7 linked regions of the Homo sapiens genome follow. The protein of the gene in region 2 purifies or fractionates together with the protein of the main gene of each other region. This does not show direct contact. Each region holds a gene or a part of one and is shown on either strand. Other genes may lie near its edges. The genes, in order: COPS4, KLHL13, PCDHGB5, MKLN1, MIER1, ZMYM4 and PAEP.

What was found.
Region 1: the proteins of KLHL13 (region 2) and COPS4 purify together in Homo sapiens (affinity purification with mass spectrometry; 2 studies listed by BioGRID and IntAct, with this or other methods). This does not show direct contact.
Region 3: the proteins of KLHL13 (region 2) and PCDHGB5 purify together in Homo sapiens (co-immunoprecipitation; one large-scale study listed by IntAct). This does not show direct contact.
Region 4: the proteins of KLHL13 (region 2) and MKLN1 fractionate together in Homo sapiens (co-fractionation; one large-scale study listed by BioGRID). This does not show direct contact.
Region 5: the proteins of KLHL13 (region 2) and MIER1 purify together in Homo sapiens (co-immunoprecipitation; one large-scale study listed by IntAct). This does not show direct contact.
Region 6: the proteins of KLHL13 (region 2) and ZMYM4 purify together in Homo sapiens (affinity purification with mass spectrometry; one large-scale study listed by BioGRID and IntAct). This does not show direct contact.
Region 7: the proteins of KLHL13 (region 2) and PAEP purify together in Homo sapiens (co-immunoprecipitation; one large-scale study listed by IntAct). This does not show direct contact.

The regions. Positions count from the first base shown.
Region 1 is NC_000004.12:83,045,183-83,048,682, reverse strand, and holds part of COPS4 (COP9 signalosome complex subunit 4), read right to left. Parts: intron 3,058-3,500; coding exon 2,978-3,057; intron 1-2,977. UniProt on the Homo sapiens protein: Component of the COP9 signalosome complex (CSN), a complex involved in various cellular and developmental processes.
Region 2 is NC_000023.11:117,900,562-117,903,810, forward strand, and holds part of KLHL13 (kelch-like protein 13), read right to left. Parts: intron 1,386-3,249; coding exon 1,272-1,385; intron 1-1,271. UniProt on the Homo sapiens protein: Substrate-specific adapter of a BCR (BTB-CUL3-RBX1) E3 ubiquitin-protein ligase complex required for mitotic progression and cytokinesis.
Region 3 is NC_000005.10:141,400,947-141,404,446, reverse strand, and holds part of PCDHGB5 (protocadherin gamma-B5 isoform 1 precursor), read right to left. Parts: intron 1,670-3,500; exon of another isoform or gene 1,495-1,669; coding exon of another isoform or gene 1-1,494. Other genes in the region: PCDHGA9 (protocadherin gamma-A9 isoform 1 precursor), read right to left, coding at 1-1,494. UniProt on the Homo sapiens protein: Potential calcium-dependent cell-adhesion protein. May be involved in the establishment and maintenance of specific neuronal connections in the brain.
Region 4 is NC_000007.14:131,330,876-131,334,375, reverse strand, and holds part of MKLN1 (muskelin), read right to left. Parts: intron 1-3,500. UniProt on the Homo sapiens protein: Component of the CTLH E3 ubiquitin-protein ligase complex that selectively accepts ubiquitin from UBE2H and mediates ubiquitination and subsequent proteasomal degradation of the transcription factor HBP1.
Region 5 is NC_000001.11:66,955,990-66,959,489, reverse strand, and holds part of MIER1 (mesoderm induction early response protein 1), read right to left. Parts: exon of another isoform or gene 1,432-3,500; coding exon 1,270-1,431; intron 640-1,269; coding exon 507-639; intron 1-506. UniProt on the Homo sapiens protein: Transcriptional repressor regulating the expression of a number of genes including SP1 target genes. Probably functions through recruitment of HDAC1 a histone deacetylase involved in chromatin silencing.
Region 6 is NC_000001.11:35,355,709-35,359,208, forward strand, and holds part of ZMYM4 (zinc finger MYM-type protein 4), read left to right. Parts: intron 1-3,113; exon of another isoform or gene 3,114-3,216; coding exon 3,217-3,500. UniProt on the Homo sapiens protein: Plays a role in the regulation of cell morphology and cytoskeletal organization.
Region 7 is NC_000009.12:135,560,495-135,564,555, reverse strand, and holds the start of PAEP (glycodelin isoform 1 precursor), read right to left. Parts: upstream 2,801-4,061; 5' UTR 2,755-2,800; coding exon 2,659-2,754; intron 2,263-2,658; coding exon 2,123-2,262; intron 1,737-2,122; coding exon 1,663-1,736; intron 313-1,662; coding exon 202-312; intron 1-201. UniProt on the Homo sapiens protein: Glycoprotein that regulates critical steps during fertilization and also has immunomonomodulatory effects. Four glycoforms, namely glycodelin-S, -A, -F and -C have been identified in reproductive tissues that differ in glycosylation and biological activity.

The sequences.
Region 1 (3,500 bases), on a different chromosome or scaffold from region 2:
GCAACAGAGCTAGACTCTGTCTCAAAATTAATTAATTCATTAATTAATTAAAAAATCTTAAAAAACAGTAAAAATAACACAACTTTTCTAAGAAACAGAAATAATTGAAAAAAGTTTTAAAAGTTGATAATTTTATCTCATTTTTCTACAAAGTGAAGGCACAAAAACACCTATATTTTTATTTATGTGCTTATATCCTACCTTGTTCCAAAAAGGAGTTAAAAAAGAAAACAGTAAAATAATTTTCATGAAATTTAAATAAAGCAAGTGCTGCCAGTACAGTTATTGCCACTTATACTTTCCCAATAAAAACAATAAATAAGAACTTCAGTGAGCACTAGATGTATTGACATTATTTATAAACATTTACGAGGTATTATTTTATGTGATTAAGCTCTGGAGCCACACTGCTTCTACCACTACTGATTATATGACTTCAGACAAGAAACTTAACTTCTCTATGCTTCTCTGTGCTTCTGTTTCCTCATGTGTAACATCTATTTCATAAGGTTGTTATGAAGCTTAAATGCAATAATATACACAAAGCACTTTAAACAATACCTGGTACATAGCACTCAACAAATGTTACTATTATAACTATCATTTTAAATGCATCATTCTTGTAAACTATTGCTTAGATAAATTATTCAAGTCTTTTTTATTATTATTATTTTTTTTTTTTGAGACTGAGTCTCGCTCTGTCGCCCAGGCTGGAGTGCAGTGGCACCATCTTGGCTCACTGCAAGCTCCACCTCCCGGGTTCATGCCATTCTCCTGCCTCAGCCTCCTGAGTAGCTGGGACTACAGGCACCCGCCACCACGCCCAGCTGATTTTTTTGTATTTTTAGTAGAGATAGGGTTTCACCGTGTTAGCCAAAATGGTCTTGATCTCCTGACCTCGTGATCCGCCCATCTCGGTCTCCCAAAGTGCTGGGACTACAGGCGTAAGCCATGGCCCCGGCCAATTATTCAAGTCTTAAAGCAGCAGTTAATATGAAAATAAGTGATTCAAAAACTGTTCAGTTGATGTAAATGATTTTAACAGTAGACTGCTTTTCCTGGTGGTTTACTGGATTCAAAGCTTATACAAAGATCAAAAAATATATATATATATGTTTTTTAATTGTTTTTTTGAGACAATCTTACTGCTGCCCAGGCTGGAGCGCAGTGATGCAACCTCAGCTCACTTCAGTCTCGACCACCGGGGCTCAAGCAGTCTTCCCACCTCAGCGTCCCAATAGCTGGGACTACAGGCATGCATCACCACGCCAGGCTAATTTTCGTATTTTTTTGTAGAGACGAGATTTCTCCACATTGCCCAGGCTGGTTTTGAACTCCTGAGCTCAAGTGATCCCTTGGCTGGGTGCCATGACTCATACCTGTAATCGCAAAGTGTTGGGATTACAGGCATGAGCCACCGTGCCCAGCCAAGATCAAAGTTATAAAAAGCATTATTCTTCTGCTACTACAGTGCAAAGTTCTTAATAAACCACTCCTAACAGTTTTTTGGAAACCATTGCTAGTTTATCTCACACCGGAGGCCATGATTTTTTAAGGCAGTAACCTTTTAAGTTTTAAGGCAGTAACTTTTTAAGGCAGTATTTTTTTAAGGCAGTTGTAATTAATTAATCACATATTAATTGGAATTCATTATTGGGTAATACAGGATGTGACTGAGAAAACAGTTTCATTACAAGTGTCATTAGGCATTTAAGTTACCATACAAGCTGGTATTACTCAGGGAAATATAAGCAAGTAAGAGCAGTGTATCAGAAAACCTAGTTTCTGATCTGGGCTCTGCCAGCTAAATGTCCTTGAAAAAAAGTTACTCAATCCTGAGACTTGTCTTACAATATATTATACAGGGATACCTGTACCTATACGTTCTAGTCACAGGTTATTAAAAGGAGCCTATGTGACAGGTAATGTGTGTGAGAACACACTGTAAAGCACTATCAGATATCATTAATGATGTGAACTCACTATAAAATTCCATGTGAACTCACTATAAAATTCCTTAGGATAATGGCCTACAGACATATGCATGTTGCTGCACAGGACATGATTGTATTCTTTTTAATGTGTGCGTAGTATTTTATGGTGTATATGTGGCACATATTTCTATCCAATTTATTGATTCACACATAAGTTAAGTCCATGCCTTCCTTATTGTGAATAGCAATATGGCGAATATACAAGTGCATGTGGGGTTTCTTTTTGTGGAATTTTTAATTTTCTTTTGGATATATACTCAGTAATGGAATTGCTGGTTGAATGGTACTTCTGCTTTAAATTCTTTGAATAATCTCCAAACTGCTTTTCACAGTGGCTGAACTAATTTACATTCTCACCAACAGTGTATAAGCATTTCATTTTCTCTGAAGTCTAACCAGAATTTGTTATTTTTTTACTTTTTAATAGTAGCCATTCTGACTAATATTAGATGGCATCCCACATTGATTTGCATTTCTCTGATGATTAGTGATGTTGAACATTAAGAAAACAACCCCATTAAAACATTGACAAGGGACATAAGCAGACACTTCTCAAAGTACAGTACTGTACTACCCTGTAGTACAGTAATGTACTATAGAGTACATTTTAGGTACATTAGATGTACTACAGAGTACATTTTAAAGAGGAAAAGGAGGCACAGAGAGGTTAAATAATTGACCCAAGATCACACAGCTCATAAAATAGCATACCAGGATTTGAATCCAAACTATTCTCTTTACTATTATGCTATATTGTCCCTTATCAGCTATTATAACAATAAACATACAAAACTTTAATTAGGATTGTAATTCTGAAGATAATTCACTGAAAATTAATCAAGTTGTAAACAGTTTAAATTCTAAAATCAATCAATCTCAATGCATATTTAATATTGATAATTTGATACAAAACAAGGCTTGAGAGAACTTTAAAGTCCTAGCTCAGTAATACAAGGCAAGCATGAAATTTCCATTTCACTTACTTGCTTCCACAAAAGCTTTCAAAGCTTCTAGTTGTTCTGCTCCAGATAACTGAATGGCTTTTTCCAGGATCTGACGATACCTACAACAATACCAAATGAAAATAATGTTCTGAGGGTACTATATTTTCTAATGCAAACTTTGATGTGTATTTATTCATTTCTACATACCTTGGTTTCTTTCATAGTACTATAGTTTGTGGTTTTCTTTATAGTATACCACAGATTTTTTTTTAAGTTTCTAGTCTATCACAAGAGATATTAAATCTATAATTATATAAGGTACCACTTCATCTAGTTTTCAGTATAGTATACCAGAATTTTTTAAGTTTTCAAGCTCATCACAAGAAAGAATGAATCTATAATTCTGTTACTGAATCTAAGGTGTCACTTTTTCTTGAAGGTTTTATTTTTGAATTTAAACTACAAAGTCAATTTCCTTTCAAATGCCTTAAAAGATAAGCTATATTTCCTTCAACTGTGCAATACATAGACACACAAAAACATTATTTGAGGTGACCTGAAT
Region 2 (3,249 bases):
TGGCTCTTCCAATATAAGACATTCTGTAGTTGCTCATGAATTTAACACCAGAAACCTGCCAATCATATACTATAGGCCTTTCATTGATTCTTATTGATTAAAAATTTCATAAGGCAGTGGTCAATCAGGTCACAAATAGTGCCTTTACACCCTTGGTCTCTAGTAATGTAACTGCTGGCCTGGCACTGGCAGGCCTTCATATGGGGAAGAATTGTCCCAGGCAGAGTGTGTCAGGGCCAAATGATAATAACCTGACTAACAAAGTTAAATGTCAATACCAGAGGTGGTCATTACATTAAAGTGAGACTTCTTCCTAAATTCTACAGGAGAATGAAAGCAGAAAATGCATTAAAAAAAGAAAGAAATTCTACAGTAGATTGATTTAAACACCAACAATTTGAGAATGAAAGTTGCTACTGGGACACTGTGAACAAACTATAGCCATTTCAGAATTTTTTAACAGAAAAATATATCTTCATGTGCATAAAATACAGATAATCAGCACAGAAATATTTATGCAATGACACCATAGTAGAATCCCCCTATAATGCTAAGGAAGAAGGAAACCCATATTATGGACTATACTGAAAGAGAGAATGAACATTATTATGTACTATTATGCATATTGGAAGCACGTTTTATGCATAGGAGAACTTATATGTTATATAATGATACACTCCTTCACATAGTTTAGCTAAATCTTAAATAAAATGAATTAATTGTTGCTACAGAAACTATGAATGGTGTTTATCAGAATACAGAGCATGGGGACTGGAAAGCAAAATTTGAATGCTTTCCAATTTTTTCTAAGTTATACCTTACAACAGGATTGGTTTACTAGTACTCTTATAAATTTACAGAATGCCCAAGACATTCATATGCAAATACACACAAAAATAGTTTCTAAAATCAACATAAATTATATTTTGATTCTCCGTTTTTCTGGATTTTTTTTTTTTTTGAGATGGAGTCTCGCTCTTTCACACAGGCTGGAGTACAGTGGCGCAATCTCGGCTCACTGCAACCTCCGTCTTCTGGGTTCAAGAGATTCTCCTGCCTCAGCCTCCCAAGTAGCTGGGATTACAGACGTGCACCACCACACCCAGTTAATTTTTGTATTTTTAATAGAGACAGGATTTCACCATGTTGGCCCGCCTGGTCTCAAACTCCTGACGCCTGAATTATTATTATTATTACTACCACTATATGGAAAGATAACCATATAGTTAAAAGCTTATATATTATATTGTGTTCACATGATACTTGTTTACCTGAAATATACATCACTCCTCCATACACAGTTCCAGCATGGCCATAGTGGGGCTCACTCATTTTGGCAACATAGGTCCATTCATTTGTTCTTGGATTGTAACATTCTACTGTGGCTGTTAAAAAAAAAAAGAAAAGAAAATTATTTTTAACTTCAAATTTAGCAATTAATTATTTTTCTCTTAAGTGGAACAGTAATAATATCCAAACACTTGAAACATATCTATTATAGCTATGATAGATATGTGTAAGACTTTGGGGGAGCTCTTACAGTAATTATTGAGACTATATTAATAATATAAACCATTAGTACATGTTACATTAGACTAGATAGTGTAAGAATCTAACAAATTTCTGTCATTGCAGAAATCACTAAGATTTATTCTGTAATCTGCTTACATATTTATAATTTGACATTTCTCCATTTTCTTTGCTCTAAAAACATAGGAAGAAAGGATGAAAAAAATCAAAAGAAATGAAAAACTCCTCAATTCTGGGTCCCCATGTTGATAGAAACAAACGTTAATACATAAGAAGCAAACTTTTACATTGAGAATGAAAATATACACACTTCTTGGTTTATGTTCTGAAGCCCACTGCTTTAATTCATATACAGACTACAAAATGGACACTGATAATAATTTCTCTACATTTATACTTTAAAGCTAATAGTTCGTATATACCCACCATCATTGCAGCCAGTACTACTCTTAACCTGAAGATGGTTGGCGGCATAATATGAAGATCTTTATTAAGAATACTTCCTGTCAGTAATGTATTTATCATCTTTTAACATAATGTATTTTGGAGAAGTGACCTCAACTCACTTAAGTATCTTTCAATCAGTCTGTTATAACCTCAAGAACAGAACAATGTCACCAAGAAAGATGGAAAATGTAATCACTTTTTAAAAGGCAGAGAAGCTGTTAAGAGAACTCATCAAAAGCATGAGGTCTAGATTGACTTGAAAAGTTCATATTATTTATTGCAGACACTGCCAACTGCTAATCCAATTTCTTGCGTCCCCCAACCCTACTTTTTTAAACTAACAGAACCACAACACTGCTTAGGGAAGCACTACACCAAGCTAAAAACGAAATTTAATTTAGCAGGTTCCCTTGAAGCTTTGGTCCACCATATGATATAGTTCTGGGCAGCGACGGGTAAGCAGAAGTTTATTGAGTAGGACAATTTGATCAAGCCACTGGAATTAGGTTTAGCTACTTGCAACCAAATGCAATCCTGATGAATCAACCTTTGAATGAGATTCTCTACTTAAAAAAAAATAACATGGTGACAGGCAAAACACACACACACACACACACACAGAGAGAGAGAGAGAGGAGAGCGAGAGAGAGAGAGAGAGAGAGAGAGACTACTTTTCCGCTCTATTCAATAATTTCATTTCATCATCAAATTCACTACGCAAAGTATGCTTTTCTCCTCCAAGCACACCTATATCATGCCACTTCTTGTATCTCTCTACTGACTTCCTTTTCCACTTACTTTAGCTTTGAATTTTCAGTCTTATTTCAAAGGCTTTTACTATTCTCATTTTTACCTACTGCTTTGTTGGCTTTGTTCATTGCTTTAGGCCTGGATCCTTGCCAATTCTATTTCTTTTAAACCCTATTTCTAAAATTAATAACAAGTTAAACTGCCACATGCCCCAGTACTGTTGTTTTTTTTTACTATTTCCAGTCACTGGATGCCTTTTCAAATGTTCATTTCTATTTGCCTTTGGCATGACTTTTACCTAACGGACAAGCAAAATCCTACATTATTATTCTCTCTCTCTCTCTCTCCTTCTCTCTCTCTCGCCACATAAGAGAAAACCTAGTGCATTGATTGGTACTTGGCATTAGCAAAGCCATTAATGGGAAGCTTTTAGAAGTAATTAAACCACACATCCTATCAGAAACGGGGTCTAAAAAGACTTCCAGATATCATCTTCATCTGCTTGAAGCCAAAGACAGGATT
Region 3 (3,500 bases), on a different chromosome or scaffold from region 2:
CCCTTGGATGGTATCCTCTGCCAAGGAGTAAATAACTCTAGAATTCTCATTGCTATCAGGGTCATAGGCAATCACGGAGAAGATGGAAGTACCTCTGGCGTTGTTTTCCGGGAGGTAGACTGAGTAGGAGGCTTGAGAGAAAGCAGGTGGATTATCATTGATGTCAGTCACTTGCAGGGTGATGTGAATTTCTGTGGACAGGGGCGGAGTTCCTCTGTCTGTTGCAGTCACCGTGATATTATATTCTGAGGCTTTTTCTCGGTCAAGAATTTGGGCCGTCAACAATCTGTAATAATCTTCTTCTGAATTTTCTAATGTAAAAGATAGATTCTCCTGGATAGAACAGACAACTTGACCATTCTTCCCGGAGTCTCGGTCATGAGCATTGAAAAGAAGAATTACTGTTCCCTGAGGTGCGTCTTCTCTCACTGGGCTAAACAGAGATGTAATGGTCACTTCAGGTCTATTGTCATTTACATCTTCCACCGAAATGAGCACTTTTGTCCACCCTTTCAATCCCCCACCATCTTCAGCTTGTATTTCCATTTCATAAAATGAACATTCTTCATAATCTAGACTTTTTGCTGTTGATATTTCCCCAGTATTTTCATTAAGCTGGAATAGCAGAGATTGTTTTTCATTAATTTTCCAGAATTTGTATGCCACTTTTCCGTTGATTCCCTCATCCAGGTCGCTGGCTGTTGCAGTAAGCAGCCAGGTGCCTGGGGGCACGTTCTCAAGGACTTTAACTCGGTAAATCCGTTGAGCAAAAACCGGGGCATTATCATTTGTATCCAACACTGTCACATGGATGCGCACTGTGCTGGAGCGACGCGGCTCGCCGCCATCCGAGGCCGTGAGGACCAGGTGGTGGGCAGTTGCCTCCTCCCTGTCCAGGGCGCGCTCCAGCACCAGCTCTGGGTTTATGGCTCCATTGTCTCCAGTCTGCACGTTCAGGGAGAAGTGGTGATTGGGGCTGAGCTGGTAGCTCTGGAGGGAGTTCACGCCAACATCCGGATCAATAGCTTCTGGAAGTGGATAACGTGCTCCAGGAACCGCGATTTCGTTAATTTTTACTTCCAGACTTTCGGCCTGGAACTTTGGGGCGCTGTCGTTAATATCAGTTACTTCTATTTCTATTCCGTACAGTTTCACTCTGTCTTCAACCAGGACTTTAAAGTTCACCAGACACCGCGGGCTCTGAGCACAGAGCTCCTCCCGGTCTATCCTACCCGCGGTGACCAAGGTGCCGCTGCGCGGGTTCAGAGAGAAAAGCTGCGTCCTACCTCTAGAGACGATGCGGACTCGGCGCTCCGCCAGCTCCCGGGGCTCCAGAGCCAGGTCCTTGGAGATGTTGCCCACAATATAGCCCTTTTCTGTCTCTTCAGGCACTGAGTAGCGAATCTGACTGGCCCTGGCCTCCCATAGCATCCCCAGGAGCGAGCATAGCAGGACTAATCTTCCGCGGAGCTGGCATTTGGTTGGAGCTGCCATTGCTGCCTCGCTTTGGAATTTTCTCAAAAGGATCTCTGTGCGCGCTGCTTCATCAGGTTCTTTCTTCCACCCTGCAAAGTATGGTGATCTTTTCCTTAGAAGAAAGAGGCTGAGTTTTGCTGCAGCCTGGGAGCAGGTTTGTGGTATCTGCCGGGTTTTGTGTAGCCGCAGAACTGGAAATCCGGATGGAGTCCTGATTTTCGCTTAGAGTTGATCAACAGCGGCGCTCAGAGTCCTAAGCCGTTACTACACCCACTGATGTGTAACATTATATCAGATGGCTGATAAAGAAAACACTACTCTCTTCTAATTATGATTTTAGATTTCTCCAATTGTTTCTTGCATTTGTATTTCAAAAGCAATCTATTTTTTAGATATCTGAGTTGTAAATAAAGTGGAATAAAATTTCTGTAAGTGTATTATAAAATCACAAACCATTGCTTAATATTAATTTATTCTTATTCTTGGTAGAACTTTGCACTCTATTTCTAGATATGTAAACTATTATAATTTCCTTTTTATGATGCTTCAATTTTTTCTGTGTATCTTAACAATTTTCTGAAGTAATTTTTATGTGCAATCTTGTTTGGAAGTACATTCATTTTTAATTTTTATACCTATATATTTGTAAATGTAAAATATATAATTGTATTAATACATATATAAGGATAGATTATCCACTTTGAAATTATTTTCTGGGGTTTATTTTGATGATAAAATTCCTGGAAAAACGTTTATTTTAAATTTTTGTATTATAAAAGTAATATTAATTCAGCAATAGTTACAGATGTTCTCGCCTAATATTGCTAAATATTAACAGGATTAAAGTTGGAAATTTTCACATTTTTGTAATTGCTTAAACTTTTCTGCTATTTCAAAAATGCTTAGTTTTTTAATGTGAATATGTAATGCATGCACAGACTGTGTTTCAATGATTCAAATGCATATACACTGAAAAGCAAGTTTCTATTTTAATCCTTCATCAATAAATTATGCAATTTTAAAGTGGTCTTAAACATTATTCTAAGCATCACTTAAACTTATATAATAATTTGGGAAAAAGAACACAAAATATACAACAAAGAAAACTACTGAAAGGTTAAAAGTAAGTGGTATTATAAGAAATCTCAGCACTTTGTAAGGAACCCATTTACTGAATCACATACTAAGGGAAACCAAGCAAAAGACTTATACCATGTAATGGGAGCTTTGTATGTACACAAGACTAGTAGTTTTTGTCTTAAAAATGGAATAATCCTGTATTCACCTTCCATCCTACAAGGATGTTGAGAAAACATCCAGTCATTTATATTTAAAGCTCCAAACGATAAGACAAATCCGGTGTCTTTTTCCCCTTCTTCAAGAATATGTCAGGATTCCGAGCAAGAGAAATTCAGGCAATAGCATTTCCTTTTTTTTGTAAGTTTCTTCTGGTAATTATATAGAGGTGGAAAAGGATTTTGCATCCAAGAAAACCTGGATAAACTTAGAAAATTATTTGGATGATTTGGACCTTCTAAGTTCAGTGAATCAGTCTCTCTCTTTCTCTCTCATACACATAACATGTAGTATTTTTCTTCTTCTTCCTCTCCTTCTCCTTCCTTTTTTTTGAGATGGAGTTTTGCTCTTGTTGCCCAGGCTGGAATGCAATGGAGTGATCTCGGCTCACCGCAACCTCCACCTGCCAGGTTCAAGCAATTCTCCTGTCTTAGCCTCCTGAGTAGCTGGGATTACAGGCGCCCGCCACCACACCCAGCTAATTTTTGTATTTTTAGTAGAGACGGGTTTTCACCATATTGCCCAGGCTGGTCTTGAACTCCTGACCATGTGATCCAACCGCCTCGGCCTCCCAAAGTGCTGGGATTACAGGCATGAGCCACTGCACCCAGCCAACATATAGTATTTTTAATAAAATTTTAGGAGATTCAAAAAATCATAAATCCATTAGGTAGGAATAAGAAAGCATATATGAGGAACATAAGAAAGAGATGAAAACTACCAGTGAA
Region 4 (3,500 bases), on a different chromosome or scaffold from region 2:
GAACTTTCAGTGGCCAGTAAGGTTCCCAAACAGGGCCAGTGTCCTTAAATCTCAGTTTAAGATAGGGAGAAAAGGGAGAAAAGGAAGGGCATAATAGTATCCGGTCTCCTGGGAGTTGCATGCCTCCAAACTAGTGGTTCACAAATTCTGGGTTGCAGGAGCCTACAGAATTATTGTAACAAGACCTCAAATCCATTTTCATAACCACCATTATCTGTACACCAAATACAATAAATATATTCTATTTTTCAACTATATGTGATTAATAAAATCAAAATTCACTTAAAAGCTAAAGTAAAGGGATAGAGAAGGAAGAAACAAAAAAGTTATTGGGAGCATTATCACTTTTGAATTATATAAGCATCCTCTAGACATCTCTACGGACCTGTCTCTGATTTAAATATGTTTTCTTCCAAATTACCAAGGATAATGCCAAAATGAACTCAGAGTAGTCTACACAGATAGAAGGAAAATAAACTGATACCTTTAATCCAGCAACTCAACATCTAGGAATTTATCACCAATGAGTTCAAAATTTTTTTCCAGGCTGGGTGTGGTGGCTGTAATCCCAACACTTTGGAAGGCCGAGGTGGGCGGATCACCTGAGGTCAGGAGTTCGGGACCAGCCTGACCAACACGGAGAAACCCCGTCTCTACTAAAAATACAAAAAATTAGCTGGGTATGGTGGCACATGCCTGTAATCCCAGCTACTTGGGAGGCTGAGGTAGGAGAATCGCTTGGACCCGGGAGGCAGAGGTTGCGGTGAGCCGAGACTGCGCCATTGCACTCCAGCCTGGGCAATAAGAGCGAAACTCCGTTTCAAAAAAAAAAAAATTTCTGTAAAGCAAAACTACCTCATGACTCATAATAGTCAAATAACAAGAAACACAAATGAAAATAAAATAAAACCACAAAGCCTAAATGTCTAATAACACGGGACCAATTAAACAAAATGACATAAAGTCATTACATGGAATATAATGTATCCATAATAAATTTTGGCTGGGCACAGTGGCTCACACCTACAATCGCAGCACTTTGGGGCACTGAGGTGAGAGGATCACTTGAGCCCAGGAGCTGGAGACCAGCCTGGGCAACATAGTGGGACCCCATCTCTACAAAAAAATTTAAAAAATTAGCCAGGCATGGTTGGCTGGGCATGGTGGCTCATGCCTGTAATCCCAGCACTTAGGGAGGCCAAAGCAAGTGGATCATTTGAGGTCAGGAATTCAAGACCAGCCTGGCCAACATGGTGAAACAGTGTCTCTACCAAAAATACAAAAATTAACCAGACGTGGTGGTGCACGCCTGTAATACCAGCTACTTAGGAGGCTGAGGCACAAGAATTGCTTGAAGCCAGGAGGCAGAGTTTGCAGTGAGCCAAGATGGTGCCACTAAATTCCAGTCTGGGTGACACAGCGAGACTCCATCTAAAAAAAAAAAATTAGCCAGGCGTGATGGCATGTGCCTGTAGTCCCAGCTACTTGAGAAACTGGGGCTGGAGGATCGCTTGAGCCCAGGAGGTCGAGGCTGCAGTGAACTATGATCATGCCACTGTACTCCAGCATGGGTGACAGAGCAAGACCCTGTCCCTTTAAAAAAAAAGAAAAAAAATACAATATAGAAGAATATTTAATAACATAAGGAAGTATTTACTATATGTTAAGGAGGAAAAAGCAAATACAGAACAGCAAACAGGACAACAGTAAATTGAAAAATACATACATCTACAGTAAAAGATCTGGAATGATAATAAACAGTATTTAAAGGGTGACTAGTAATCTTTAGGTAGTGATATCAAGGGTAATTTAAATTTTGTTTCTGTGGGTCCATATTTTACAAATATTCGATAATAAACATAGAGCATTTTTTACATCAAAATATATATTAAAAGATATATAAAATATATTTTAATATATATGATATAAAAAGTGTCTATTTTTTTCTTAGACATGGGGTATTGACGAGATGCTGTCTTTTTCTTTTGTAGAGACAAAGAAGAAAAGAATATATATATATTTACATATTTTTAACATAATAATATATAACTATGCACATATATTTTATGTAATAAAAATATATAAATATTTATATATTTTTTTTCTTTTGTAGAGATGGGGTATGTTTCCCAGGCTGGTCTCAAACTCCTGGTCTCAAGTGATGGTCCTGCCTCAGCCTCCCAAAGTGCTAGGATTACAGGCATGAGCCACCGTGCCTAGCCTATATTCATTTTTAAATGTGAAATTTTAAAATTAGTTTTGAAAAGAGTTGAAATAAATTCACCTTCTATTCTAGTTGTCAAATCATAACACTTGTACTCTGAACCATGAATCAATCACATGTTGACACAAGGTACTATTTTAAGTACTATTTGATTTTAAGTAATAAGACTAACAGGAAAAAGGTAAACACACTTAAAAATCTATCAGATTTTATCATCTAAATTATCTAAGTCATTCAATAATATGTAAACAAGATAAGAATCATTCTATACCAATGAAATTACCTAATATGTAAAAAATACTTTCAAAGTTTCTCCCAGTTCTCATATGAGTATACTAAAATCTTAAACATCAAGATAAAATCTATTTTTCCCTCTCTTGCTGTTCTAACCTTAGAGCGCTTATCTGTAATCTCAATTAGACATATACAATAGCCATGTATAATAATGAACAGCTTTCGTAACAGAAGTCAAAAGGCCCAATATGAGAACCTTATCACCTACATTTTCTTCCTCCTCATCATTATTATTATTGCAGATGGGGTCTCATTGTGTTGCCCATGCTGGTCTCAAACTCCTGGGCACAAGTGATCCTCCTGCCTTGGCCTCCCAAAGTGCAGGGATTACAGGTGTGAGCCACCCTGCCCTGCCCCTCTTACATTTTCAACTCTTAGACCTGGGCAAGTTAACTTACCTCCCTAAATCTCACTTTTCCTAGCTCTAAAATAGAATAATAATATTTATCTCATAGGGTTTTTGTGAAGACTATTATATCAAAGAACACATGCTAAATGCTCAGTACAGTGCCTGAAGAATAGAAAGTACTCAATAAGTGGTGACTGTTATTAAAGTCACAATGCAATAGTTTTTAAGTCAGAAAACCTGGCAAGCCTCTGGAAAACTATATGACCCTGGGCAAGCTACTTACCCTGTATGGACCTCAGTTTCATCCTCCACAAAACATATATAAAATACCTATCTTACAGGTATGTACCAAGAATTAAACAAAACTGTATACAAAAAGCATCTTGCATATATTAGGTGCTCACTAAATTGTAACTAGCATCATTATTAGATACAAAAATAAACATTTGAGTACAGGGATTAGCAGTTTACAAAATATTTTTATGTATAAGAGTATATGTAATTTTATGAATTATTTAAATAAGTGTATTTAATTATTAAATTAGGTGTAAATTTCAGAAAAAAAGTAAAATACAGGCAATCTCTAAGCACACAAAAATAAAAGGCCTTTTTTTAGTCTCAAAGTAAAAATGT
Region 5 (3,500 bases), on a different chromosome or scaffold from region 2:
TTCTACATAATTGTATTCTCATGAAATGATTTCCTATAAAAACTTAGGGGAAAAAACTGATTTAGAATAAAGATAATATTATCTTACTACATATTTCATGACAGTTTATTTTTCTTCAAGTGTTTTTCTTCCTTTTAAAGTAGAGAAATTTAGGTGTATTTATGAATATACCTAAAAAAGGCTAAGAGGCAAAGAAAGTAAAAAATGGAAACTAAGGGAAAGACTATGAGAAACAAAAAGATGACCATGAAACAAACATTTAAAAACAGGGCAAAGAAAAAACAAATACACCCAAAGTCAAGTAGTACATGACACAATTACCATAGTATATTCACTAACAACAGGGACCCTGCATTGCTAAACTAATAACTTACAACAAAATCCATTTACTGTTGAAAAGAATTTCAGACTAAATGAATTCAAAGACCAGTTTAAAAAAGAGGATTTTAGGTAATACCTAAAATAGTAAAAATTATATTCAAATATTATCAACCAGTAACACTTACTTGTATCAAAATATTTACATCGACGTGGGCGGATTATTTCCTGGGCATCTTGAGAAGCAACAGATTGTGATGGATCATCATTGGAAGACTGAGTTTCATCCTCCTGACCTGATGAATCCTTTATATTCTCCTCCTGTGGAATAATAAATTAAATTTCTCTAAGATGTAAGGAAAACAGTTGCAGATGAAAGACCATAGCATATAAATTTTGTTCTAATATATGCAGAAGACTAAAATGAATATACTAGATGTAGTATCATCCTCTGGGTTGGTTCCTGCAACAGGAAAAAGTACATTAGCAGAAAAACTGGTATAATTCAATCTGCAGTTTAGTTAATAGCACTGTACCAAGATGTTAACCTTAGCAGAAGTTGAGGTAAGAGTATACAGGAACGTTCTATACTAACTTTAAACCTTTTATAAATCTAAAATTATTTCAAAATAAAGTAAGAAAAATAAACACAAACTGCCAATTAGCCTTTATTATTTAAAAGCAATAGCATTTTTTTAGAAAGTTGGTATAAATTAATTAGAATAAGCACTGGAAAAAAAGAAACCTGAAATGACAAGACCAAACTGTTACCTCAGGAGTAAATTACAGGGGATTTCCAATTTTTATATTATGTATTTCTGTAATATCTTAATTTTTAACACTTTTAAAATCAGGAAAAGATTATAAAGACAAGTAATCAAAATATATTAAGCAATTTTAACTTCAACAAGAATAAAGACTACAATCTTAAATATATGTATATAGACTTACTTTATTTTCCCCACTACAGCCACTGTTGTCATCATTATCAGCATCTTCATCATCTTCACCTTCTTCTTCCTCTTCTTCCTCTTCCTCATCTTCTTCAGGTAGTCGAACAGTACTACCATAACCATAAAGGCTGAGAAGTTCATGAATTGGCATGTCGCCTTCCTAAATAAATCAAAATAAAAGGTAATCTCTGAATCAGTGATATTTCTGATTCCCAGGCTATAATCCACAAATCTGTGGAGTATTCATTCTATAGTGAAGAATAAAAGCTGTGTTACGAATTCTCGGATCATAAAAAGTAAAACTGAAAATATTTCTGAAACCTAGGAATATCCCAATCTTTTAAGTATTTCTATAAAATGAACCAGTTATAATTGCTGACAACAAGATCTTTAAGTATAATTAAAAAGTGGCCTTGGTCTAACATGGACTATTCTTTTTGCAATCAATTCAGTATATGCACAATGACAGTTAACGCTATGCATGGATGCCCACTCTTAATAAGAGTACCATACTTAACTTGAGGGTGGAGAAATAGAACAATGAGAAATAGACTATAAGTTAACAAACCCAGAAAGGCAGACGAAAATTCAGAGCTCAGCCCGAACACATGAAAAAAAAAAAAAAAAAAAACACAAACAAACCAGTAGTAATATACAGAAATGATAATGGACTACATTAACCATATATTCTTCTCTATGGTTATCTCCATTTACATATAAAATCATCTCATGAAATCCTTACCATCTATCATACGGACTTGTTATATTATTTCCATTTCATAGATGCGAAAACAGAGGCTGACAGGTTAAGCATTTCTTCACAAATCACACAAGTTACAAGTAGTAGAGCCAGATTTAAACAGTCTAACTCCAAAAGCCCATATTCATATCAATACACCATGGTGCCTTGGGCAGGGACTTCCCTCAATCCCCACAAAAATCAGACCCTCCGTGGATGAAAAAGAAATGTCCATACACAATGAAATGAAATCAGCTTTCTATACAAACTACTCACTCTAACCAGTAAACAAGAAATGCACAGCATCAGGGAAACATAACAGAATTCTGATTATAAAAAGAAAATTTAATCCAAATCATGTGAACATATTATACACTCATGCACACCCACATACAATGCACATGGTCTGAAGCAAAACAGTCAGAAAACAATCAGTTTAGAAGCTAGAAAAAAAAGGGTAATCATGAAATAAGACATGGTTTATGTTTCTCCAGCAGTCATGGAAAGAAGTAAGTCTAGCTCATGTGTTAAACACATTGCTACAATGGATATGGGTAAATCAGACTGGATTAGATGATACAATTAACCTGCATCACTCAAAATCCATGTGTGGGAAGAAATTAATGATTATCATTTGAAAAGATTTTCTTAGGAAGAACTAGGAAGAAACTGTCATCCAAAACTTCTATTTCCCATTACAAATGGATATTCTGGTTATGAATGAGTTTGTGAATCTATTTCTGAAAGATAAATCAATTCCAAGACCCCTAATGATTTGCAGAAGCTACAACCTGAAAAGCGGTAACTTTATCAAGGCAAGGTATTGCCACTCTAGCTAAATAACCAGCTGGCAAACAAATGACAGCTCTTACACTGTGTCTCTCAAAGTACAACACCAACAGTGCTTTAAGTGTTCAAGTATCTGGTCCATGTACCAAGAATCTGGTACAGGACATTGGTATTTGGGAATCTGGAGAGTCAATACTCAGGAACTAAAACAAAACTTCAAAATAAGAGATAGAAGTGTAGTAAGAGAAATATAATGAAAAGGCTAGATTTATTTTTTGAGACAGGATCTTGCTCTGTCACCCAGGCTGGAGTGCAGTGGCATGATCACTGCTCACTGCAGCCTCAACCTTCAAATGATCCTCCCACCTCAGCCTCCCAAGTATCTGGGACTATACATGTGCACCACCATGCCTGGCTAATTTTTGTATTTTTCATAGAGAAGGGTTTCACCATGTTGCCCAGGCTGGTCTCAAACACCTGGATGCAAGCGATCTGCCCACCTTGGCTTCCCAAAATGTAGGATTGGAAACATGAGCCACCGTGCCCAGCCTAAAGCTAGTTTTATATACAAGAATAACAAATAGCTGTCATAAAGTATCTTCTATGTGTCAGGCATTTATGATAGATGCTTTGATTTCACTGTCTTTTTCTCTTGCAACCATGAAAGCAGTGTCAACACACACAATTTCATTAGATCTTTA
Region 6 (3,500 bases), on a different chromosome or scaffold from region 2:
TTTTGGTCATTATTAGAAAGGCTTGTCTCTGCGACTCAAAAATAATTCTTCCATAGTTTCTTTAATATTACTAAAATAATTCTTCCGTAGTTTATTTAATATTACTGTTTTATTTCTTTATGCCTAAAACTTAGATACATCTGTAAAATTTTTTGATGTGAGTTAGGGATCTCATTTTTCCATATGACTACCCTTTTCTTCAAATACTATATCCTGAATTTAAATGTAATGATAAGGGGCTGGGTGCAGTGGCTCATGTCTGTAATCCCAGCAGTTTGGCAGGCTGAGGTGGGCGGATTGCTTGAGCTCAGGAGTTCAAGACCAAACTGGGTCTCTACAAAAAATACAAAGATTAGCCAGATGTGGCGGCATGCGCCTGTTATCTCAGCCACTTGAGAGGCTGAGGTAGGAGGATTGCTTGAGTCCTGGAGGCGGAGGTTGTAATAAGCTGAGATCATGCCACTGCACGCCAGCCTGGGTGACAGAGCCAGATCCTGTCTCAAAAAATGAACCAACTAACTAAATAAATAAGTAAATGTAGTGATATGGAAAGTTGCTTACAATATTACTTCTTAGTATTGACTTCTCATGCACTATAGAACTCATTGTTCTGACTACATAAAACACCTAATTTTTCATTTATGAAAAATTACAGAGCACATGCTATGTGGTCAGCTACTAATGATGAAACGTTGAGATGGCTCACCTGTAAGTTCTTCAGCATACATCTCCTAAGATTTTAGCATCTGTTTTACTATCTGTTGTCTCAATTGATTATTTTAGAAAGTATAGACAATTTTTCCAATTATATTATTGCCTCTACGTTTATTAGCAAACGTTCTTATGATAGAAACAAGCTTTTATCTCCTTCCCTTTGACATTATGGACTCAAATCATTATTTACCCTCATACTGTTTCTAATTTTCTGTTTATTTTTTCTAGCTCTGTGAGGAGGAAGAGTCATAGCTATCTCTTTCATCATTTTATCCCTAGAACCTAGTGCAATACCTACCACAGAGTGGTTTCCTAATAAATATGTACTGAATGAATGAATACTTCAAGCAGTGGGGAGCTATTGAAGAATCTCAAGGGAGGATGTAATGTGAAATGATTTATATTTTGGAAAGGTAATTCTGATGTCATTATGGAAGAGAGCAACTTGAGCAAAGCTCAGAAAAAAAAAAGAAAGAAACAGGGGGTTGCCCTGTCACATCACCCAGGCTGGAGTGCAGTGGCACAATTATAGCTTGCTGCAGCCTCAAACTCTTGGGTTCAAGTGATCCTCCTTCCTCAGCCTCCTGAGTAGCTAGGACTGCATGTGTGTACCACTACACCTGGCTGATTAAAACAAAATTTTTTTTTGTAGAGATGGGCTTTTGCTATGTTGCCCAGGCTGGTCTTGAACTCCTGGCCTCAAACAATCCTCTGGCCTCAGCCTCCCAAAGTGCTAAGATTATAGGTGTGAGCCACTGTGCCTGGTCCAGGAAAGCTTTCCTTTGGGTTCTGTATCAGTTGGGACCTGATTACAGATAATCCAACTCAAATCAACTTAACAAAAGGAATTTATTGGATTCCATAATCCAGAGAAGGGTTGAAGAACCAGCCACATGAAGGATGTAACTGGGCTTCAGGAACAAATAAGAGCAAGGATGCCAGTGCCACTAATATTTTTAGTCTTCGCCTCACTCTATTTTTATCAGTTCCAGTTTGTTTGCTGATGTATCAATTAAATGTGGTTTAGGCATAGAGTTTATAAGGGTATGGTTGCTTCCTGAGTATCCATGTGGACTGAATTAGTATACCTTTGAAGGTATTGTAGAATCCAGGAGGAGACGTGGAGTATTAGAACTAGGTGCTAAGTGGAAAAGATGGATTTGAGAGAGATAAGTAATAAAGTTGACAGAATTTGTCCAGGGGGAAATCTTGAGCAACTGCTGGTTTGGTGAATCTGTTAACCATCTGAGGGAAATATAAGAAGCATATGCTTGGAATGGGAGGGAACATGATGAGTTTTGATTTTAGAGATGCTAAGTTGGAGAACGTGTAGGAGCTAGTTGAATATAGACATCCGAAATCTTATAAGAAAGGTCTAAGCTTAAGTGCTTAGGAAGTCAGTAGCAAAGGTAAGTGTTATGGAGGTGAACAAAATAGCTCAGTCTGAGTGTAAAAGTAAAGAGAACAGGAATCTTGCAGAAAAGCTAACATTGAAGCCATGTGAACAGAAGAAGAGTATAAAATAAATTATAAGGCAATTAAGGAAAGTAAGAAATAAGAGTACCAAAGAATCCAAAGGAATTTTATCCATGAGGGATATGCCATTTAGGAATTGAAAAAAGTCAATTTGCTTTGACCATTAGGAGATCATTGATGATGTTAATGAGAAAAGTTCCAGTGGAAAGTTGGGAGCTGATTGTATTAAGCTCAAAGGGTTAATGATAGAGATGAAGTAGAAGCAAACTAGGTAGAATTTTTTTCCTACAAGTTTGTGAAGGGAAGATGAATGAGGGCATTGTAGGGTTAGGGCATGAATGAGGGCATTGCTTTGTTTTGTTTTGGAATGGGAGAGATTAGTATATATTAGTAGTTTTAAACAGTAAATAGTCTTTTATTCTAGGTTGGATAAAATTTATTTTTATGTGTAAGTATTAACTGCCGTCAGTGTTTATTAGTGTTAGTGCAGAGAAAATGGGACTCAGACCAAAGACCTGAGTGCTAATCTCAGTTTTCCCTGAATAATCGCCATAATAATTATAATTACCATTTTATATTCCCTTCTATTTGTCAGTCATTGTGTTAGTAGGTCTTTTGTACATACTATCACTAATCCTCACCACAAATTTATCTCCAAGGTGAGTATTATGCTGTTGTATAGATAGACTCTGAGAGTTTACTTTTTAGGATTACATAGATTTTCAGGATCATGCTTTGATTTCAACACAGATATGTCTGATTCTGAAGTTGGTGCTCTTTTCTCTATATCACGTAGCTTTCTTTTCTAACCTAAAGTAGTTTCTCAAGTTTTGGCTCCTTGTTTCCTTAACTGTCAGATAGGAATAGTTATATCTGTCACACCTATATCAAAGTGTTAAATGAATACTATGGTAATATCTGTATTTTGTTTGAAAAAATATTTATTTGGTTAAATACCAGACTGACCTTATCATTGTGGTCATCTTTAGCACTATCATTTGTCTAAACAGTATTTTACTTTTTAAGGTGGTGGTATCATGGATACAGAAATGTCTGAAGATATAGACCACAACTTAACTCCTACCCTTGACAGCATGTCTTATGGAATGCCGAATCAAACAGGATCTGAAAATTCATTGCTGGATGAAGATGATTATTTTTTGAACTCTGGGGATCTTGCAGGAATTCCAGTCGTTGGTAGTGACAATGAGGATGAACAGGATTTTAGTTCAAAGGACAATCTTGTTTCTTCAATTCATACTGATGATAGCTTGGAAGTAGAGAGAAGAGTCACACAGCATGAATCAGAC
Region 7 (4,061 bases), on a different chromosome or scaffold from region 2:
CTCCAGCCTGAGTGACAGAATGAGACCCTTTCTCAAAAAAACAAAGCAAACAACAAACAAATAAAAAAAACCAAGAAAAAAAAAGTCAGCCCACAGGCACCGAGGTGGACAGGAAGCCAGTTGTCAGCTCCCCAGGGTTCCCAGCCACGGACGTAGCTGCTGCCTCTCACCCACGTTGAGCTCATGTGCTGTGAGACCCACCCAGGTACTGGCACATCATGCTCTGGATGGGGGTGGTGGTGTCCTGTAGGCAGAGAAACAGGAAATTGTCGTAGTCAGTATCGAGCAGCGTGGCCTCGTTCGCCACCGTATCTGGGGAAAGAAGAGAAGAACCAAAAGGAAGATGAAGCCTCCGTCTCAGCAGAGTCCTGTGCAGGTGTGTGGACATCCCACCACACTAAGTGGCTTCCTCATCCACTGACACCATGGGACGTGGCCCCTGCTGTGGACCATGATCAGGGAAGCCAGGGAGGAAAGGGGAGGAGAGGCAATGTGGAGGGCCATGGAGCCCCGGCTGAGGGGGAGAGGCCAGGTGTGCCGTGGAGAGGCAGACACGGCAGGCAGGGAGGCTGTGACCTGGAGAGACTCCAACTGAGAAGTCACGTACGGGTGAGGATGGCGGGAGATGGCACAGGAACAGGGCACAGGGGCGGGAAGAGGGAGAAGAAATGGACCTTGGAGAGTGGCTCGATTCTGGGGAGGGCAAGCAGGGTCAGAAAGGCCTGAGGCAAGTCCCAAGCATGAGAAGCAAACTGTATTTGCTGGGAAAATGTGCCCATGAGGGGATAAGAGGCCCCAGACCCTGACCACCTCTGTCTTTTTAAAAAAATAATAATTAACAAAATAGAACAAAATGTTGCAAATTGTTAGGAAGAATTCAGTGGACCAAGGACATGCTGTAAGCCCCTCTCTCTTCCCCCAGAGAGGCCTGGGAGCTCAGCCTAAGACCAGAGCTGCAGCCCCAGAGTGCGCAGGAGGCAGCCAGGCCCACGGGAACAGCAGCCACTTGCCCACCTGCCCACCTGCCCACCTGCCCACCTGCCCACCTGTTCACCTACCCACCTGCCCACCTACCAACTTGTTCACCTGGCCACCTGTTCACCCACCCACCTGTTCACCTACTCACCTGCCCACCTGTCCACCTACCCACCTGTCCACCTGTATACCTACCCACCTACCCACCTGCCCACCTGTTCACCTAACCACCTGCTCACCTGCCCACCTGTTCACCTAACCACTTACTCACCTAGCCACCTGCCCACCTACCCACCTGTTCACCTACCCTCCTGCCCACCTGTATACATATCCACCTACCCACCTACCCACCTGCCCACCTGCCCACCTGCTCGCCTGCAGCCTCCCTGGCCTTTTGTGAGGCCAGAGTGAACAGTGCAACAAAGCACCTGTCCCCTGTGCCTGGGCACAGTGCAGACCCACATCCAGTCATGTCATGCCAAGAATTAGTGCTTCCCCTGCCCTCCAGGTAAAAGATGCCTCTGGGGTCAGCATCAGGTTGACCGGAGTAAACACTCTGACTCCCTGAAGCAGAGAGAGTGGGGACAGGCCAGGCCCCACTCCCTCATGCCCCAGCAGAGCCGCCTCTGGGAGAGCGTGGCTAGCATGCCAGCACTGAGCCAGCCCTTGGGGCCTGGGGACACTCACAGTTGATCTTGAACTTCTTTGGATTCTCAGTCTTCTCTCCAAGGACCTTCTTCTCAACACAGCTGTTGTTCTCCCTGAAAGGTGGTGACAATAGGATGAGTGGCCACTTGAATTGGAGTTGCCTTCACTGTCACTCCTAAAATCAGGTCACCACGGGAACTTCCCCGGGTCCAAGGAGCACCGCAGCCCGCAGCCGCCCAGACCTTCTCCTCAGTCTGACCTGGGGCTGCACTGTGTGGTTGGCTGTTGGCCCAGAGCCTGGGGCAGGGGATCCAAGGGGACAGGGAACGTCTGGAGCCCTGGTTTTCCACCCCACCCTCATGGAAGGGCCACAGTGAAGCCCCTGGCTGTCAGAAAATGCCTGGGGCTAAGTCCAGCTCCGCCCAACCCACCCAGTCCTGGACCCCTGAGGGGGGAGACTGAGCCCCCGCCCAGCCCGTCTCAATGATGAGAAACCCACCATCTGTGCAGAACGATCTCCAGGTTGTCCTCGGGGGTGGGCAACAGTGAGGTGATGTGGACCCTCAGAGGGGCCTTCAGTGTCGCCATGAGGGAGATGTTGTTGGTCGCCATGGCCATGGAGTGCCAGGTCCCTGCCAACTGAGGGGGCCTTGGGCTGCACGGCGGTCCCACCCCACCATGGCTCTCGTTGCACCCGGTGCAGACGGGGCTGAGTCTAACTGGGATGGGTACAGTGAGCATTGGATGGTTGTCTGCTATCTACCAGATCCTGGGCTATGAAATTTCCTGTACTTAAAATGACCAGTGTGTGCTAACTCAGGAGTGTTCCAAAGTCCAAATAATGAGTCACCTAGGATGCTGGGAAACCAGAGAGGCCACCCTAAAGATGGAGAGCAGGGCTGAGGGCTTCCTGACGTCATGGCGTCCATTCTGTGCTTCCTGTAGGTTTCTGAGATCCTGGGCTTCCTGCCTGCCCGCAGCTCCCACCCGCCCCAGGCCTCCCACAGTAAAGTGCCCGCTCCCCCAGCCTCAAACCTTTGGGAGCTCCAGGTCCTGCTTGGTCTGGGGGATGTCCATGGCCGGGACACCACAGACCAGGGCCACGCCCAGGGTGAGCAGGAGGCACAGCATGGCTGCGGCTGTGGGTGGCTCTGAGCTCTGGAGCCAGAGGGATGCTGAGGCAGTGTGGGCTCAGGGGGCCTTATGTAGGAGGAGGGCAGACAAGATCCCCGCCCACAGCCTCGCCATGTGATTCCTCGAACCTGTGACTCATCCTTGGCCCCTGGGCAGCTTCCTCCACTGGGGCAATGGGAGGCTCTTCCCTGCGTCCACGCGGGAACCTCCTCTGTGTCCGGGCTGGGCAGTTCTTGGCAGGGCCTCAGGCGGGAGGGGCCTGGGTCGGGTCCAGGCTGGCAGCGGCGGGAGCACCTTCTGGGTTGGGGCTCCTGGACAATGTTGGGTCAGAGGCCAGCACTGAGGACAGCTGTGTCCAGGGCAGGGGTATGGCCTGTGGGGCAGGCAGAGGGCCTGAGAGCCCCATGGCTGCCCCAGGATGCCACAGACATCATGCCAGTGGGTGACTGACTGCACGGTCATAATCCTGACCTGTACCTTCCACTCAGACATCCCCAGGTGTGCACACCTGTGTCCCTCAAACAGCCAGCCTCTGGACAGGTGCACACTGCCTGTTAGCACTGTTTCTCTCTGACTCACAGGCAAGACTGGGTGGAAATGGGAGGCAGTGGACTTTCAGACTTTGTCCTACAGTCTATATTGGATGTACTTTTTCCCACAGGGAAGCATCACTTTGTAACTTACAATCGAGCCCGCATCTCACTCCCTGGAGAGCACTTGAGTCCTGAGGCAAGACACGGGTGTCCACTCCCACTCCCCCATCCATCAGAGCAGGTCATTCCGGCCAGAGCAGCTAGGCAAGAAATGGTAACTAAAGGCAGGCAGATTGGGAAGGGGGAGGTATACCTGTCTCTATTCGCATATAACATCATTGCCCAGGTACAAAATTGCAAGAACTCTACAAAACCCCTCCTAGAACCGAGTGAGGTCAGCAAGGTCAATCGCACAAAAATCCACCGTGTTCCCACACAGTGTCAAGGAGTAGACAGAACCCGAAACTGGAAATTCAGGATTTGTAATCACACACACAGCATGTAGGCAAAAATCTCACCAAATATGGACAGGACTTAAACTCTGAACCCAAGGAAGGGAAATCAAAGACCTAAGGTAAAGGACAGGCACAATGTGTTCATGGGCTGGAAGCTTCAACACAGCAAAGGTGTTAGCTCTCCTCAACTCAACCTAGAGATTTAATGCAATTCCTATCAAATTCTCAGCAAGATATTTTGTAGGTAGCTATAGACATGTGTGTGACACACACACACACATATATACATATATACATTTTTTTGAGGCCAAGTCTT